Regions from separate parts of the Homo sapiens genome. Here region 1 is linked to region 2. Evidence: fine-mapped expression QTL. A gene starts in region 2. The other region holds a variant in brackets. All regions are shown on one strand. Distances are from middle to middle.

Region 1 (4,399 bases), 49 kb before region 2:
AATTTAACCTCCAGAGCTAGAAACATAGTCCTGGGAGAATGCCATCACAAAATCAACCTGCCCATATTTGAAGAGAACAGTGTGTCCTAACTGGCATAACTGAAGAATTAGTTCTCAAATCCATGCAAAGCCTGTTTTTCTTTTCTATTGTTTAAAGCTTACTCATTTCTCTAACATTCTTTCAAGAACAATTAATTTAGAAACAATTTATAAAGGTACATTCTCCTTATTTAATTTTAAAATTAGAAATTTTTTAGAGTTAAAGGCCTTTATTATTAGTTTACTTACCTCATTTTACTTGAGGCTGAGATTAAGAAGGGTAAGAGGCACATCCAAAATTACAATTGGAGTATGATTTTTAATATTTGAAGTAGTAATACTCAGAAAAATACCTTCATTCTGCAAAGCGAATAGTAATCATAAATACTATACATAATGACAATTCTGAGAGTAAAATGAACATTATAAAAGCCACTTCATAAATGTTTTGTGAGGCCGTGATGAGATAATGCCTATACAGTGCTTGATGTATGATAAATACTTGGTAAATGATAACTTTTTAAATTTACATTTAGCATTCAATATATTGCCACTGCCTAGGACATTTTAATGAATTTTTAGGGAATGGTCCATTTCTGCTTATTATTTGAATTTTCAAAAAATAATAAAATGGGCCAGGCATGGTGGCTCACGCCTGTAATCCCAGCACTTTGGGAGGCCGAGGCTGGTGGATCACCTGAGGTTAGGAATTTGAGACCAGCCTGACCAACGTGGAGAAACCCCATCTCCACTAAAAATACAAAATTAGCCGGGCGTGGTGTTGCATGCCTGTAATCCCAACTACTTGGGAGGCTGAGGCAGGAGAATCACTTGAACCTGTTAGGTGGAGGTTGCGGTGAGCTGACATCACACCATTGCACTCCAGCCTGGGCAACAAGAGTGAAACTCTGTCTCAAAAAAAAAAAAAAAAAAAAGTAAAATGTAGCTGCTGGGGTCTTAAAATACATCGCAGTTTGACATGGACCCTTGTGTCAGTTTGGGTCCCCTGGGAAGCAGATGCTAGGATGGGATTAGATGTACAAGAGATCTACTAGTAGAAATGCCTGTAAAGGATAAAGGGGAAGGGAGGCAGAAGAAGGCAAGCGAAGCATTTAGGCCACAGTGCAGGTCTGACATTTGTGAAGGGAAAAAGACAAGGAAGGAAGAAAGATTAGGCAAGAAGAGTCTCAGACTACAGCACAGTTCTAAGAAAGCATTGGGAGACCATGAAGAGTCTGCAAGCCAAAGTTTCTGGTAGAGGAGACCTGCAGAAATGGGCCTGCTTTACTGTGCCCATACAAGCAGTGTCATTGGCTGGGAGCAGTGCAAACATGGTGATGGATCCAGAGCAGTGGCAGATGGGGTTGTCAATTATGTATGCTCCTCCAGCAAAAGATAGGGGTCACACGTTTCCATGATGCAACCCTAAGATGAACAAATAGCTGACTATAGGCAATTAAAAGTAAAATATTTAATCTCTAAGAGCCAAAATATAGGTTCAGTGAAACTTTCCAAATTAGCTTTCTGCACATTCTGCATTTTTTGTACAATTCATAACATGAGCAATGATAATGGTGTTACAAATAATATCAAATTTCTATTCCTTTGGATAAGATGTAATTGATATACTAGAAAAAAAAAAAAAGAGTGCTTTGGGGTAAATATAAGTAGTTTTCTTACCCAAGAAGTTTTCCCTTTTAGAATGTGGTGTTCATAGCCAGGTGTGGTGGCTCACACCTGTAATCCCAGCACTTTGGGAGGCAAAGGTGGGAGGATTGCTAGAGCCCAGGAGTTCAAGACAAGCTTGAGCAACATAGTGAGACCTCATCTGTACAAAAAATTTAAAACATTAGCTGGTCATGGAGGCCCACGCCTCTAGTCCTAACTACTCGGGAATCTGAGGCAGGAGGATCGCTTGAGCCCAGGAGGTCAAGGCTGCAGTGAGCCGTGATTGCACCACTGCACTCCAGCCTGGGTGACAGTGTGAGATTCTGTCTCAAAAAGAAAAGGAATGTGGTGGTCTTCATATTTTTTCATTTTGTTATC[G/A]TTACTTTTTTAGGGTTTAGAGACTCATTTTACATTTTTATATGTGTATTCCTCCATTTCTTTTTTTCTCTAATCCCATGACAGATTCTTATTCTCCAGCATTTCTTATTCCACATGTAGAGCCATAAATAAACTCCTAAAAATCACATGAAGTTTTTTTCCCATAGATTGCTAGTCTCATTTCATCTTCACATTATTCCTGGGAGTAAGAAACAATAACAAACAACAGCCACTGACAAAACTAAAACTAAAACTCAGCAACTTTTAGTTTCTAACCCAGTGCACTTTTATTTATGTTATAATAAATGTTTATTGCTTTGTAGTATTACAAACAGTAAACATGTACAATAAACAGTAACAAATAATACCCACTGACAAAACTAAAACTCAGCAACTCTTAGTTCCTAACCCAGTGCACTTTTGTCTAGGTTATAATAAATGTTTATTACTTTGTAGTATTTAATAAACTTTTTAAAAATTAGAATGAAAAATGAAGGAAAAAGTATAGCTGAATATAAAAATGCTTTTGATCATTGTCATTAAATCAGAAGTAAACACTTTTGTAAAAAATTTGGAGAGTATGGAAAAGAAAAAAAAGGAATTGTTCATAATCCATAGCTCAAAGACCACCACTGTTAAAATCTGAGAATAATTCTTTCTATTGTTTCTTCTGTGTGTACTTGTGTTGCTGTGATCATAATGTTTATATAATTTTGTTAAATTACATAAGCAGATAAATGATTTGTTAGGATATAATCGTTTTATAATAATAATAATAATTTGAATCGTCTAGCCCTGACTTTCCCTTCTGACTCTTGCTAGTTGCTAGCCCTATCATATAGCCTAAAACAATGCGCATTTCTTAGTGAGGGCAGTCATATCACTTGTGACCTTTTTTATTTTTTTTGTTTGTATTACAGTGCTGTCCATGCTTCCAACACTGAGAGAGGCCTTAATGCAGCAACTGAATTCCGAGAGCCTCACAGCTCTGCTAAAAAACAGGTAAATGCAAGTTACAGCATTTTCTGTTTAAGCACTACACTTAAAGTTTATAGAATGAACTGATAGACTTTTCAAAAATCTTTGTTATTTTTCTATCTAATGAAAGTTTATATAGGCTCAGTAAGAAAAATACTAACTATATCATTTAACCTACATTTAATTTTGTCTATGCTCTACTTTTTTGCATAAAGCATTCAAGGCAATGATATTTGTATGTATTGTTTTTCATATAAATAGACCTTATAGCACTTTGAAATTGTTCACAAATTTAATTATGCAGTGCTTGTGAAATGTGTTCCTGAACCAGATGCTGTGAAGCTAACAAAGTTACGTTAAATATTGTGCTTCTTTCTGAAAGAGCTTACGGTGTAATACAGCATGTGAACATACGTTTTAAATAAATAAGATATACAGGACTTATATCTTAAATTACTAACAAAATGAAATACAAACATAACATGAGCATGCAATACTAATAATTTACATTGCCATGGCAGTTTGCTGTTTCCAAAAGCACTTTCACATATGTAACCTTGTATATTGCATGTAGCATGTGTTGGGGTATTGTAATTTGGTATGATACTGTATTAGTTTGAGAAGACTTCCAGCAGGAAATGGCTTCTTATTTTGATGACAATGATGGGAGGGTGGGCAGGGAAATGGTTTCACTAAATAAATGTTAATCATTGTGGCCTTCCTAAAATAATCACTTGCCTTTAATCACCCTTCAAATAGCCAGGGGAAAAGTAGTTCTATTTCTAAACTGTCTCACTGTGCTAGCCCTGGTGCTAGGTACCTTCCATATATGCTCCCACTTAATTTACACAATATCCCTGTGAGGCGGTTACTATTATTCATTTTGCAGTAGGAATTGAGTGCTCAGACAGGCTACATAACAAGTGGGGAATTTTTTTAAAAACACTTACTATATTCAGAGAATACTTCCCAAAATAACAGTGGATTTGTGTACTTGAGATTTCTTTTATCTGATTAAAACAGAATGCTAGTGATGGGGGTTTTCCATTTTAAATTTCTTCATTCTTAGAGGTAGACAGACCTTCCTTCCTTCTTACAGATATAAGGTTTAGCTTATAAATTAGTTCATACAGTTTTATGAAGAAGAAACATATAAGCAGATTGCTTTTGATCAAATAAATAATTACCATTTGTGTGTACATAGGTAGGAATTGAAAAGAAGTAGATTTTAATTTCCTTTTTGTCATGATGAGAAGGCAAGACAAGTTAAATAAGTGAATAGCATTTTTATACAAGCAACATAATACAGATAAAATAATCGTGGTGGCATTCTTCC
Region 2 (4,399 bases):
TTGGTTTTTAATAGACATTTAAAACAGTCACATATACTCATCTATACTGTTGATTCCCCGAAAGTCAAATTGAGAGTGAGGAGCAGAGGATACAAAGGGAAATCACAGGTAATTAAAGAATCTTCCACAGGGTTAATGCATTTTCAGATCATCAGGAATCTGTTCTCTATTTTGTTTAGTATGAGAAGTATCTTTATTATTCTAGGTCAAAATAACCATGGGTTTATCTGTAGAAAATGAAGTTATTCATAGCAAAGAATAAAATGACTCAAAACTAGCTGTTTTATTTTGGCATAGTACTAGTCTCAGTCAAAAATGTCAAATCCTCTTTGGCACCAATATATCTTTACCTAATCTTCATGGTTGAACAAAATGATAATATAAGATACAATTTAGGGGGAAGAAAGTTGTTAATTATGTACCACACTAATCTAAAATATTTCCAAAACAAGCTCAAGATTCCTTACAGCCCAAAACATGCAAATAAAGATTTGTAACATCTTTTTGAAGTAGCTATGTTTTGGCATAAGAATAAAGAGTCTCTGTTTTAGAAGGTGAATTATTTAAAATATGAATAATTCTCCATAGCTTATCCAGTTTTATTTTTTACATCAATTGACCTACCAATAAGAAAGGTTACTGGTTGCAGGTAGTCAATTTCTTTGTCATGAAAGGGTTAAAATATGCTATTTTGGCACATTTTTAAAGGTAAAGAAACTCGAAAAATAGCAGGTGCATGAAGAGCACTTTGCCCTTTGTGCTGTTTCTTAGGAGAGAAGATGAAATTCCAGTATGAAAGGCACTCTGTACTAGAAGGAAAGGCAACATCCTAAGCTTCAAAGACAAGAAGTAGAATACTGTACAGAACTTGCTAAAATTTATTATTTAAGTCTCCCCACATAATTTAGTCACACAATGTCAATTTAATTCTTGGACCCAGCAGAGACCCTAACAGAATGGAGGTGTAATTTTTCTACCCCTAGAGTAGAGCATGGTACCATGTATACTATGTAATGTTAATATAATATATAGTTCATACTCTGTATTGTGTCTACTAAATATAGTATGTTAATTTGGATGTATACTATTTATGTAGTATATAGTTGATTCAAATAAATACTGTTTAATGATTCCGTTCTTTTACTTAAGAATATATTATGTGTCCCAAAGTCCTGGAATTACAGGTATGAGCCACCGCGGATCACCTGAGGTCAGGAGTTCAAGACCAGCCTGGCTAACATGGCAAAACCCCGTTTCTACTAAAAAATACAAAAAAATTGGCCAGGCATGGTGGCGTGCGCCTGTAGTCCCAGCTACTCAGGAGGCTAAGGCGCGAGAATCGTTTGAACCCGGGCGGCGAAGGTTGCAGTGAGCCGAGATGGTGCCACTGCACTCCAGCCTGGGTGACAGAATGAGACTATGTCTCAAAAAAAAAAAAAAAAGAATATATTATGTGTATGTTTCTATATATGCACACAAAATATTTCTGTTTTGAAGGACTTAATACTTGTAGCATTTAGTCAGAAAAGACATGTGCAACAGTTTAAGAAATTACATGCACATTTTCACATAGATCTCAAGGTAAAATCTAACGCACAGATTTTTGTGTAGCACCTTTCATACGGCAGTATGATAACTGGGTTGTGTTAAGAGTACCATTCTAGAACCTCTTTAAAAAGTTCCTAGAGCCACACATGGGTAACATGTTAACATTAAGTAGCCAATGGTGTTCAATGAACAGTCGTTTCACATACTCATGACTATGTTTTAACCATAACTTCATGGCAGAACGACTGTAAATTGGCAGGTAGCAGCAGAGCAACCATAGGCCATTGTGCCTGAGTCACCGCTCGTGTGATGCCCCTGCACAAACTGATGAATGTCTGTAGTAGCTCGATGTTGTAGTGTCATAACTACAGCTTAATATGCGCAACTATGAAGAAGCTGAGGAGTCAGGAGTATCTGAAAACTCTTACAGTCACACGGAAGAAAAATTCCCTGTTCATCCAGCAGAAGCACTTAGGCAGGAAACCACATATTCGACACCCGGAAGTGCGAAACGCGGGTAACGCAGTGGGAGGTGAAACCGACGAGGGTGCAGGCAGCACCAGGCGGCGAACCAGGCCCGCTGGGTGGTGGCTGGAGGCTGCGGGTGGGGACAAAAGCGCGGCAGACGAGACAAAAGGGAGCGCACTCACCAGAACCACTCGCTACCGAAGCTGGGCACGGAAAACACTCCCCAGTGGATGAAGATGCCGAACTTGGCCTGGTCAAACCACGCGGGCAGCTGGCGGGCGTCCAGGGACTCCCAGGTGGGGTCGAAGCGCGTGGCGCTGTGGGCAGGGCACGGCGGCGGCGGCAGCAGCAGCAACAGCAACAGCAGCAACGGGAACGCGAGCCTGGGGAGCTCCTGGGGCCGCATGTCCCGGCGCAGGCCGGCTGTCCTCTCTGCAGGCTCCCGCGGCCTCGGGAGCGCTGTTCTTCCGTCTCTGCCGCTGAGTATGCCGCGCCGCGGTCACCTGACCAAGTCGGACTTGGAAACCGGCCACCCTTCCCCCTCTGGGGCGGGAGTGGCCACTCTCCCGGGCGTTCCGAATGACCTCAGGAGGGCTGCATCGCTCAGCATAACTAAGGCCAGCATTACCCCAAAGCCAGCTGGGACGGCTTTGCTAAGGCTCTGTCCTCTTGAGGGGAAAATATGAGTCTGAGTCAGGGCCTTGTGGCCAGCGCCTCTGCCCTCAAGCAGACACGACCCTGACCAAGAAACTGCCCAAGAAGACAATGCCCCCAGCCCACCCTGGTGGCTGCTCCACACGTCCGAAGCGTGCACGAGAAGGTCAAGGCAGGAACTTCAGCCGGGTCTCGCCATGATGGAACATGGAAAGCAACCTAGATCCTTCTCGGCCTCTGTATCAGCTCCCAAGATCCTGCATGTTAGAACCGTGGTTGTCAACCTTGAATTTGTATCAGATGAAATTCCAAGAGCTTCAGATTCAGCAGTTAGGTTGGGGCCCAAGAATTTGCGTTTCTACCCAGTTCCTACTTCTAGGATGTTCTGATGTTGGGCCGGGCGCGGTGGCTCACTCCTGTAATCCCAACACTTTGGGAGGCCGAGGCGGGCGGATCACAAGGTCAGAAGATCGAGACCATCCTGACTAACACGGTGAAACCCCGTCCCTACTAAAAATACAAAAAATTAGCGGGACGTGGTGGCGGACGCCTGTAGTCCCAGTTACTCGGGAGGCTGAGGCAGGAGAATCGCTTGAACCCGGGAGGCAGTTACAGTGAGCAGAGACGGTGCCACTGCACTCCAGCCTGGGCTACAGAGTGAGACTCCATCTCAAAAAAAAAAAAAAAAAGAAAGAAAACAAAATTGTGATGTTTCTGATTGGTGGTCCAAACTTTCCTGAGAACCACTGCATTGAACAAGGAGATGATCTGAGACAGGTGAAACCAGTGGAATGAATGTTTAAGAAACCTGCAAGCTTGGGAAAAAAGGCCAGCAACTTGGAAAGATTAATCAAAAGGATATTTGGGAAGCTTATCACCTCCACCTCTTGTTTGGTTTGTTTGTTTGTTTGTTTGTTTGTTTGTTTGTTTGTTTTTGAGACAGAGTCTCGCTCTCTCGCCCAGGCTTGAGTGCAGTAACATGATCTAGGCTCACTGCAGCCTCTGCCTCCCGGGTTCAAGGATTCTCCTGCCTCAGCCTCCAGAGTAGCTGGGACTACAGGCACATGCCACTGTGCCAGACTAATTTTTGTATTTTTCTTTTCTTTTTTAGTAGAGACAGGGTTTCACCATGTTGGACAAGCTGGTCTCAAACTCTTGACCTCAGGTGATCTGCCCGCCTTGGCCTCCCAAAGTGCTAGAATTACAGGCATGAGCCACCAAGCCCAGCCTCTCCTCCACCTCGTAAGTGTTTTCAAAGTAAAGCCAGAATCCTCAACTGCTTCTGCCCCCATGAAATCATTACCCTTCAATGAGCCAATTCAAATGCTGCTTCTTTTGTGAAGCTTTCTGCCACCACCCTTCCCTCCCAGAATGTTGTACTTTCCCTGATCTGCTTCATAACACCTCCTTCCAAGCACACATAGGATTTCACGCATCCTCTAGTAGCTAGGTGGTACAGGTCTGATTTCCCATCAGACTGTGAGCTTTTTGAGGGCATTCATAATGACCTTCTTTTCTGTAGTGCCTACAATTACAGCAGAAAAGCAGCACTCAAAATGTTTGTTGAAGCTCTCCAGTGAACTGGGGTTCTAATTATTGAGTGAAGAACTTGACACTAAGTGGCTGTTGCCTGCATTATCCCAACCCATCTCTGCAGAGAGATGGGAGCAGCAGAGGGCGCTGTCACTGCAGGTGTAGGGGCATTTTTCCTCTCCATGACATGCCAGAT

What was found. PIP is the estimated chance that this variant, and not a neighbour inherited with it, causes the effect. A credible set is the group of variants that fine-mapping cannot tell apart.
Region 1: its variant is the best candidate, but not a certain one, in a credible set for the expression of FUCA2 in whole blood (INTERVAL, PIP 0.69).

What each region holds. Positions count from the first base shown.
Region 1 is chr6:143,459,911-143,464,309 of GRCh38, forward strand. PEX3 (peroxisomal biogenesis factor 3) reads left to right here. Exons shown (of 12, transcript NM_003630.3): 3 at 3,006-3,087. Among named protein-coding and RNA genes, the nearest start is that of PEX3, 11 kb to the left of the region's middle. The variant G/A (reference allele first, on the strand shown) is at 2,086.
Region 2 is chr6:143,509,213-143,513,611 of GRCh38, forward strand. It overlaps FUCA2 (alpha-L-fucosidase 2), which reads right to left and starts at 2,508. Exons shown (of 7, transcript NM_032020.5): 1 at 2,199-2,508. The coding sequence starts at 2,422. LOC105378035 (a long non-coding RNA gene) reads left to right here and starts at 2,573. Exons shown (of 4, transcript XR_007059796.1): 1 at 2,573-3,564; 2 at 3,782-4,399. RefSeq lists a silencer at 1,741-1,944 and enhancers at 2,145-2,807, 2,367-2,496, 2,607-2,786, 2,808-3,468.